2 separate regions of the Homo sapiens genome follow, and region 1 is linked to region 2. Evidence: fine-mapped expression QTL. A gene starts in region 2. The other region holds a variant in brackets. All regions are shown on one strand. Distances are between the middles of the regions.

Region 1 (5,392 bases), 66 kb before region 2:
CTATTTCTCAGCAGAATTTAGTTTACCTGCTAGTTACTCCATTATCCCCAGAAGCAGAACATCCCATGGTAGCCTCTAAGTACTTTTTATATACATTAATTGTTTTGATCATTACCAGGCTTATCTCCCCTGCCCATCTGTACCATCAACTGTCACCAGTAAAGTTTTACTTACTGTTTCTACTCCAGTACTCACTTTGTGCTAAGGGTGTGTATATGTATAAAATTTCCTATTATCCACTCAGCAACCATAGGGCAATGAGGTGCTATAATAATTTAATAAACAAAGGAGAGGCCCAGTATCTATAAGATCACAGAATTCATGGCAAAGCACTGATTCACATTGGTCTCAGTATATAGCTCTTGTTATTAAAGTCTATGCTATTGTTTGTGGTCTTTCTATAATCTTGTTTGCTTCCTATAGAATACAGCTCAGGGAATATCTTCAGGACATTTTCTGTGTCCTGAAGTGCTTCATTATCACTGTTACAGTACTCTCTCATATTATCATATTCAAAATATCTCCGTGTCTGTATCCTCTACTATGTTATAGTTTTTGCCAAGAGTAGGGAATGTGTTTTATTTATCTTCATACCCCAGGTTTCGTTAGAGTGCATGATATATCTAAGCATATAATAAATGTTCATTGTATTTCCCTAAAGTCATCGTATACTTAATTTGAATAGATTTAAGAAATTTATATGTGTATTACTATTTTATCACCTTTATAAACACTTATTAGAATCTTAATTATTCTCCCTGGTACAGTCTTAGCAAAACTGTTGAACATTATATGTTATATATTATATTAACTCTTTTTCATCATATATATAAAGTTGTTTTGACCTCAGGCAGTATTTTGTTATAACATCCTGAAGCAGTTCAGAGGACTTTTAGCATAAATATGGTAGTATTTCAAAATTGTAATTTACCATTTGTTAATTGTAGAATTAATAAACAAAAATACTGTATGTATAATTAAACCACAATTGATTAAGCTACCTCCTAGAAGATGAATGAGCTGATTGCAGATGACAATGAAAGACGTAGCTCATAAACATCAGTCTCATTTTATAACTGGATAAAATTTTGATAATGCTCTTTAGACAGCATGATTTTTTTTAACCCTACTTTGCTGGATAATTTATATATTTTATTGGTCTAGAAGCTTGATAGCTAACACACTTGATATACTGCAAAATTGAAGACATTTTTTAAAGAAACAATAGTTTTTCCTTTGGGTGATTAAAAATAACGATTAGTACTTTATTCTCTAATAGTGGCTAATATAGACTCAATAGTTATAGAAGGTGTTTTATAGAGTTGACCCTCTGTATCCACCGATTCTGCATCTGAGGATTCAACCAACTGTGGATCAAAAATATATGGGAAAAAAAATTAACAATACAACAATTTAAAAAATCTAATAAAACAGCACAGTATAACAACTATTTACATAGCATTTACATTGTATTAGGTGTTAAGTAATCTAGAGATGATCTAAAGATACCAGAGGATATGTGTATATCAAATGCAGATATTATACCATTTTGTATAAGGGACTGGAACATCTGTGAATTTTGGTATCCATGGGAGTCCTGGAATCAGTCTCCCATGGAAACAAAGGGACAACTTTGATTACTTTTTAATCACAAAAGAAATGTGTATATATGTGCATATGGACTTCTATGTGCAGGTATTTTTTTTAAATGAGGCAAAATTCATATAACATAAAATCTATCATTTTTACTTTTTTAAAAAGTACAGTTCCGTAATGGCTTAGTACATTGACAGTGTTGTGCAACTAGCACCTCTGTCTAGTTCCAGAACACTTTTATCAGTCCCAGAGGAAACTCCATAACCAATTACTTACCATTTCCCCCTCCCCACAGGTCTGGCAACTACTAATCTGCTTTTTGTATGTATGGATCTGCCCAATATTTAAAACAAGTGAAATGATACAATGTGGCCTTTTGTGCCTATCTTCTTTCACTTAGCATAATGTTTTCAAGATTCATTCATGTTGTAACATGCATCAATACTTTATTTATTTTTATGACTACATATTATTTCATTGTGTGACCAGGCTTAATGGCTCACACCTGTAATCTCAGCACTTTGGGAGGCTGAGCTGGAAGGATCTCTTGAGCCCAGGAGTTCAGGACCAAACTGAGCAACAGTGAGATCTTGTGTCTATAAGAAATAAAATTACCCAGGTGTGGGCAGTGAGCTGTGATTGCATCACTGTATTTCAGCCTGAGTGGCAGAGCAAGACACTGTTTAAAAAAAGGAAAATTCATTGTGTACATGTACCACATTTTAAAAATTCATTTATTGCTTGATGAACATTTGGATTGTCCATCAATGAATGGATTATTAGCTAGTAACCTTTTGGCTATTGTGAATACTGCAGCAAAGAACATTTATGTTTCAGTCATTTGAACACCTGTTTCCAGTTCTTTTGGATATATACCTAGGAGTAGAATAGCTGGATCATGTGGTAATTCTATGTTTAATTTTTTGAGGAATCCTTAAACTGTTTTCCACAGCGGTTAAACCATTATACATCTCCACAAGCAATGTCCAAGGATTCCAGTTTCTCTACATCCTCGTCAATGCAGGTGATTCCCCACTCCTTTTTTTTTTTTTAATAGCCATTCTAGTAGCTTTTTTTTTTTTTTTTTTGGTCTTTTTCAGCATTTTTACTGTGATCCATGTGTTTGTGGGTTTCTTTGCATTTAACCTACTTGGAGTTGATTGAGCTCCTTAAATGTGTATATTATTGCTTTTCAATAAATTTGAGAAGTTTTCAGCCATTTTTTTTAGTTATCTTTTTCTGCTGCTTCTGTCTTTCTTCTCCTTCTGATACTCCCATTATATACATGTCAGTGTGCTTAAAATAATGTCCTACAGTTCTCTGAAGATGTTCATTTTTCTTCATATTTTTCTGTCTGGATTGTATAATCTCTACTGATTTGTCTGTAAGTTCACTAATTCTTCTATTTGTTCATATCTACTGTTGACCTCCTCTAGTGAATTTTCATTTCAGTTATATGGTTCAGCTCCAGAATTTTTATTTGGTTCTTTTAAAAAAAATAACCTTTACCTTTTTGTTGACATTCTTTATTTTTTTTGTGTGACATTGTCATCA[T/C]ACCTTCCTCTAATTATGATTTCCTTTAGTTCTTTACACATACTTATTAATGGCTATTTGGAATGCTTTGTCTGTTAAATCCAACATGTAAGTTTAATCACAGTTTCTGTTATCTGTTTTTTTCCCCAGCATATGGGTCATACTTTCTGTTTTTTCATGCCTCGTAATTTTCTATTCAAAGCTGGATATTTTATGTAGTAAATTGAGAAATTCTTGGAACTGGTTTCTTCCTTCCAGTGCATGCTGTTGCTTCTTGCTTATTTTGTTTATGGACTGTTTTAGTGGAGTCTATTTAGTGCCCCCCCCCCACACACACACACACGCACACAGTGTTAAGCCTCTGATGTTGCACCTCTGGGGAAGCAGCCTTGGGTATTCCCAGTTACCCTGGGTGATGGTGGTTTGGCAGGGCTTTCTTTTTGCCTGACTACTCACATCTGTTAAGGTCCATTAATCTAGTGCTAATTGCACTGTTTTCAACAATGCCCTGGGGCATTATGTTGTTCTGCAGACTCATCAACTTTGGTTTCCTTTGAAGAAATAGTTCCCTAAGTCAGTGCCTGAAATTTCTTCCGAATCCAGGTGGGCTCCTCTCAGCTGTGTCTTTTCCTGTTTTTTTTTGGGCAAATCAGCTGTCCTGTAGTTTAGCCTTTGTATCCATTGATTCCTCCAGTCTCTTCTCATTTGCCTCTCACAGCCTCTACTGTTTTTCAGATCATGCTTGCCTGTTTCCTTGCAAATGAACTTCTTTTCTCTGGGAAGAGATTAAAAGCAGTCTGCTTTATGGTCCACTTCTTTCCACAGGCAAACATCTCCAAGCCCAGGCTCTGGAGTAAGGAGGAAGGAACAATGGTATTTCTTTCCCAGTGTATCTCTACTGTAGGAGCTGTGCTGGAGGGAGGCAGTAGCCTCAGTTCTTCTTATCTTCACGCTCTTTGTATGGAACCCACAGTTTACAAGCCAAGACAGCAGTGATTGGTACCCTGACAGCACCATGCCCAAAGTAGAGCCTCCACCTTTCCGGCAGTGACAGATTTGAAGAAGGGAGCCAGCCCCTTACCTCTTGGTTTCATTCACCTGTAACATCAGCATTAAGTAGCTAGAGGTGTAGCAGCATGAGCCAAACAAACAAACAAAACCCCTCAGACACCGAGTTGAGGAAGGAAAGGACTTTATTCGGCTGGGAGCATCGGCAGACTTACATCTCAAACAACCGAGCTCCCTGAGTGAGCAATTTCTGTCCCTTTTAAGGGCTTATGACTCTTAAGGGTGTCCACGTGAGAGGGTCATGATCGATTGAGCAAGCAGGGGATACATGATTGGGGGCTGCATGCACCGGTAATCAGAACGGAACAGAACAGTACGGGGATTTTCACAATGCTTTTCCATACAGTGTCTGGAATCTATAGATAACACAAGCAGTTCAGTCATGGGTTGATTTTTAACTACCAGGCCCAGGGCGTGGCATCGGGCTGTCTGCCTGTGGATTTCATTTCTGCCTTTTAGTTTTTACTTCTTTTTTCTTTGGAGGCAGAAATTGGGCACAAGACAATATGAAGGGTGGTCTTCTCCCTTAGAGGCAGGATGAGAAATGTTGACATCCTTCCTGTCACAGGAGGACATTGACTGGACCTGTTGGAAGAGGGAACACAGTGCTTATGGCTACACCAGTCTAGAGTGGAGTTTCTGACTCCTTGAGTTAGGACAGAGCAGCTCCTGGTTCAAAGACCACAGACTCTCACTTTTCTCATAGTCTCTACTAAATTTTCTTGAATAAATGTTTCTTCATTTGTTCTGTGCTTCCAGCAGTGTTTTTATATTTTTCACCAAATTTTCTGGGGAGTATGTCCATGGAACTCCTCAAGTTGTCACGCTGAAAGTTTTTTTCATTAGTGGTTCAGTCTCTGCTGGTTATGGGGGTCTGTTCACATTTTCGGTTTCCTCTTGAGTCAGTTTTGGTAGTTCCACATTTGTGAATTTTAAAATTTTTTCTTCTGTTACTGATTTATAGTTTCATTCAACTGCAATCAGAGAGGATACTTTGTATAATTTAAATTTTTTTAAATTCGTCGAGACTTGTTTTGTGGCCTCGGTAGCATATGGTCTGTCCTTGAGAACATTCCATATGCACTTGAGAAGAATGTGTGTTCCACTGTTGATGAGTGAAATGGCTGTTAGGTCTAGTTATTTTATACTGCTGTTCAAGTCTTCTATCTCTTTATTGATCTTCCTCGTTCTCTGC
Region 2 (5,392 bases):
TATCTTTTCATAGTAGTGTTCAGCATCCATTTTCTTATTTCTCTTTGTGTTCTAATTTGTGATTCAGGAAGGACCCATGAATTAACACTGTGCTACAGCACACATGGTAACTGAGGAACATTTTGTAATATATAATAATCCAATAAGTGTATAAATACACACATATATAAATATATAATATATAATACATATATACATTATATATAATAATATGCACAATATATATTATATATCTATATAATGCCAGAAATTTGATATCACCTCTTTACATTAGCAACCAAAAGGACATTGAAAGCTAGAATTCTCAAGTTTTAATTTTATACGAAAAGTAATAAAAATCAATAAAACACAAATATTAAAAACAGCTTTTCTTTGCTTTTTAAATGTTTTATGTTTTTAATGGACAAATAATAATTGTACATATTCCTGGGGTATGTAGTGATGTTTCAATACATGTAATGCAGAGTGATCAGAACAGGGTAATTAATTAGCATATTCATCATCTCAATCATTTATCATTTCTTTATGTTGGGAATGTTCGATGTTTTCCTTCTAGCTATTTGAAACTATAAATTTTTAGCTATAATCATCCTACAGTACTATAGAACACTAGAACTTATTTTTCCTATCTGGCTATAATTTTGTATTCTTTAACAGATCTCTCTTTCAAAATAAAAGTTAATCAATGACAAGCCTCCGAAAATGGTGCTAACATGGCTGATAAAGGAAAAGGTGCACAAGCCAAGAGTTTGCTCCAAATCTATCTTTGTACTTGGCACTCTTTTGTGTAATTCCTTTGTGCTTATTACTAGGAGGCATGGCCTTTACTGTGCCCTTATCCATGACATTATTGGGAATAGTACATAGATTATATGTAATATTTTCTGGTTCTTTTAAAATATGAAATGTTTTGATTAAACCTTACAGCATCTCTTGGACACATAAAGAAATACAAGTTGCACCAAGAGAGTTAAGCAAAAGATGCTCAAAAAGAAAATTGTAGTCATCACAGAAAATCAAAGTAATTTATAATTAGAATAAATTTTATAATTAGTATAATTTGTGCACAGTTATTTGGTATAAATGGATGGGTGCTATTAATAATGCTAGAAAAAGTTTACAAAACCCTAAACAAATCTAGTCTTCTTTTACTTTTAAAAGATTTAACACACACACATATTATATGTATATAACATATCATAGTATTTTAATTATGAAATGTATTTTTATAAGTAATAGAAACTACATGTGAGTTACCCAATAAAAATGACATATCAATAAAATATAAGAAAATTTGAAGTTGGAAACAAAAATGACTCTAAGGAGAAACAAATAATATGTGCAAATAATCCTGAAACTAATTTTTTGTATTTTTAGTAGAGATGGGGTTTCACCATGTTGGCCAGGCTGGTCTCGAACTCCCGACCTCAGGTGATCCACCCACCTCAGCCTCCCAAAGTCCTGGGATTACAGGCGTGAGCCATCGCCCCCAGCAACAACAACATAATTAGTACATTTTCTGAAATAAAGGAAAGACAGTAAATTCTGTGAAATAAATATATAATAATTTATGAATTTTGTATGTCTTTATTACTCATCCTAACATCATCAGCCTTTCAACAGAATACCCAGACAGACCATCTGATATTTTGCCAACTTTCAGTTAAATAAAAACCACAGCTTTCTAATACCTATAAAAATTTTGTAGTAATGAAGGTGTATTTGTCAAAATAGGAGAACAGAACATATTTGGCTTAACAATTTGTAGCATGAAATATAACTTTGAAATAATTGGACATATGCTTCTTGGGTCTCCATTTATGTTCTTATCCGGAGCCCTGAAAATTTTAGGGGTGGGCTGATGTGTTATACTTACACAGGTGACCCTTCTACCCATACAAGGAGCAAATAATCATAAGTGTTGCTGGTCTTACCACAGGGAAAGTAAAGCATCCTGCTGGAGTGAGGAGTGAGGCATTGCTGGTTTTCTACAGAAGCACTGGAGCATTTCAAGCCCTTGGGCTTGATTCATGACATTCTTTCTGTCTAAGTGACTATAGAGGAGGAAAATACCCTCTCCCCCACATTCATCCAGACACTTCCTATTCCCTCTTCATGTGCCAGTGTTGTGGTGTGAATTGTGTTCCCTAAAAAGATATGTTAAAATTCTAACTCCCTGTGCCAGTAAATGTGATCTTATTTGGAGATACGGACTTTGCAGATCTAATCAAGTTAAGATGAGGTCATACTAGAGTGGGGTGGGTCCAAAATCCAATAATTGGTGACATCATAAGAAGACTGTGAGAAACACACAGAGACCCAGGGAAGAGGCCATGTGAATGAAGATGGAGGCAGAGACTGAATTTAGGTTCCCACAAACCAAGGAATGCCAGAAACCACCAAAAGCTGGAAGAGGAAAAGGAGGATTCTTCCTTACAGACTTCAGAGAGAGCATGGCCCTGAAAACACATTGATTTCAGACTTTCAGCCTCCAGAATCATGAGAGAAAAAATGTCTGTTGTTTTAAGTCACAGCAGCTGTAAGAAACCAGTACAAGTATCACTGTGTTTTAAGCCTGTGGGCCTGACTCATGAGTGTCTATCAGAAATGCCCTCTCCTCTATATTCACTTAGATGTTTCATATTTCTCCTTTGCATGTCATTCATGGCTTTCAGGAAGACTTTTTTGGCAGCCCAGGGCAGGTCTGGCTTTATGCTACCAGCAGCCCAGGGCAGGTCTAGCTTTATGCTGTCAGATGGAGTGGGCTATAAGTAGAATGTGACCAGGCTGATGGTGATGCTGCTGCTTCTAGCCTGGCATCATACTGGTTTTCCTCTGCAGTTGAGAAGAGTCATGTGCAAGCTCGTGGCAGCAGCAAGTCCTCCTAATATGTCCCTGGTATCAAACTAACTCATTAGACTGTGGTAGCTGTGGTTGACTCCTGGTTTCTCCCAACTCCACCCTTTTGGCAGGCAGCAACCCTGGCCAGCAGCTGCTCATGGTCTAGGAAGGACAGCTGTCTTAACACCCATTCATCTGTAGAGAGCAGCCTTTTGGATCAGCGGATGGCTCCACCAGATGCTCAGCTTGTTTTCAGTTCTGGAGTCTGAAATCCCCAGTGCCATCTACCTGGCATCAGTCTCAGGTGCAGCATTTTCATAAGGACCCTGATGTCAGCAGCTGCTTGTGTGGGTAACACTAGGTGAAATCATCCACTTATGTTCTCAGGTTAAGAGTTGATTAGGCCAATTGTATCCAGATCATTTTCCCTTATGAACAATGGCAGCTGCATGGCACATTTTTCAAAAATTTAGTCTAAAATACATGAAAAATATACTGTTTTCCTTTTTCTTGGAAATGGGAAAATAGATTTGGACTCAGTTCCTGAATTATATTTTCTCTCTCCCTGGGTTTCAATAGCAAGCCTAATGTAACTGTGTGTAAAAAGAAGTATTTTAATTTGGAGGGAAGGAGTTTGCCCTCACCACAAATCAACATTCTTTTCTCTATAAAACACTTGAGCTTGCATATGCAAATGAACCCCATGTAGGCATAATAATTAGTCATTCTTTCACAAAGAAATAATTGATGAACATTGTGGTATATGACAGACAGCATTAAGATACGTCAAGATTCTTTTGGATCTCTCAGCTTGTCAAAAAGCAGATGTCGATTTTGTGGCCTTGCTGGTAAAACATTGGACTCTTTCTCTTGGTGCACAATTTAGTCACCTTCTATAATTTGCTTTGAAATGAACAAGATCTGGCATAATATATCTTCTATTTAATGAGCAATATTACAAACAAGATTAAAAGAAATGGCTATGAAGCTATTGTCTTTGCAAATTGAATTTGGCAAGAGACGACTACAGACAAGTAATGAACTTTCTAGATACGTCACAGGGACAGATCATCATACTCCAGAATGGCATAGCTTTCTTTACAAACTTTAGTAAATGTATGGGAGAGCTTGTCATTCAAATACTAACAATTACAGAGATTCTAGGATGAATTCCAATAAGCTCATGTGGTTTAATTTTAGATGCAAACAGAAAGAAATCATTATTCACATAATTTTTGTTGTTAACCTTTTGGAGTAAAGTTGACAGAGTTGGAAAATCTGTACATTTAAAAAGTGTTACTGTTTATGATTACTGCGTTAGTCTGTTTGGACTGTTATAACAAAAATATCCTGGATGGGGTTGCTTTAACAACAAACATTTATTTTCCACGGTTCTGGAGGCTGGGAGGTCCAAGATTGAGGTGCCTGCAGATTCTGTGTATGGTGAGGGCCTGCTTTCCAGTTCACAGACAGCCATATTCTCACTGTGTTCTCACAGGGTTGAAGGGCAAGGGGCCTCTCGAGAGTCTCTTTTTACAAACTGTGCTTATCCCATTTATGAGGGCCTCACCTTCATGACCTAATCACTTCCAAAAGCCCTACCTCTAAATACCATCACATTGGGGATTAGGTTTCAACACATCAATTTTGGGGGAGCCATAGAGATTCAGTCCATAGCAACTACTAATGTTAATAATAGCAGTTACCATTTACTGAGTAGTTACATATGGTAGCCACTCTATTTAGTGCTTTCCATTTAATCCTCACTGCCATAGAAAAGAGATAAGTAACATTGTTATTCCCATTTTCAAATTAGCAATGTGAGTGTTTTAACCATAAACTTGTCCGAGATCAAGAGTTAGAAAAGAGAAGAGTCAGAATTCCACGTGTGCCCCATGACTTGAGATTCTGCACTTTTATTTGCAGGGTGAAACATCTCACAGTGGAAGAGGAGCATTCTGTGTTGAGAATTTCCATTGACGAAGCCAACTGAGTGGCCTGATTCCCTTGGACCAGCAATCTAGAGCTAGGGAAGATGTTGCCCCAAGGAAGAGGCACAGCAGACACTTGGCTCTCCTCTTGGGTTTCTGCTTTCTCTGAGAAAACAGAAGTTTGAGGCCTCTAGAAGCACTGCATTCCCTCCAAAGGGAGGTTGTAGATACATTAATTAATATGATTTTAATTCAAAACTTCCTGAGGCAGATAATTCTAAATGATTATCCCAAAAATATTTCCAACACCCTTCTTTTTACCACCCACTGGCCCCCAAATCCTCAATTTTCCAGTCTCCCTTGAGCTAAGTGTGGCCCTATGACTCACTTCCAGCCATGAAAACAAGTGCAAATCTGTTAGGAGTATGTTCTGGGGCAATTTTTGCTCTCCTGATGAAGACAAAGGCTGTTGATCCACTGAACCCACCCAGGTAATCACTTATTTTGTTCTTGTTCTAAGAGAAAAATGACCCCAACTATTAAAGTTACTGTGAGTTGATTAGTTTGTTTCTACTACCAAATATATTCCTAACTGCTACAGCTTTCAATATTTAATCATA

Evidence for each region.
Region 1: its variant is fine-mapped to the expression of LINC02631 in whole blood (TOPMed, PIP 0.98).

The regions. Positions count from the first base shown.
Region 1 is chr2:138,532,890-138,538,281 of GRCh38, forward strand. All of the region lies in intron 1 of SPOPL (speckle type BTB/POZ protein like), which reads left to right. Among named protein-coding and RNA genes, the nearest start is that of SPOPL, 34 kb to the left of the region's middle. The variant T/C (reference allele first, on the strand shown) is at 3,151.
Region 2 is chr2:138,599,297-138,604,688 of GRCh38, forward strand. LINC02631 (long intergenic non-protein coding RNA 2631) reads left to right here and starts at 2,303. Exons shown (of 3, transcript NR_174959.1): 1 at 2,303-3,145; 2 at 4,768-5,263. LOC124905958 (a long non-coding RNA gene) reads right to left here and starts at 2,014. Exons shown (of 3, transcript XR_007088680.1): 1 at 1,935-2,014; 2 at 1,445-1,519.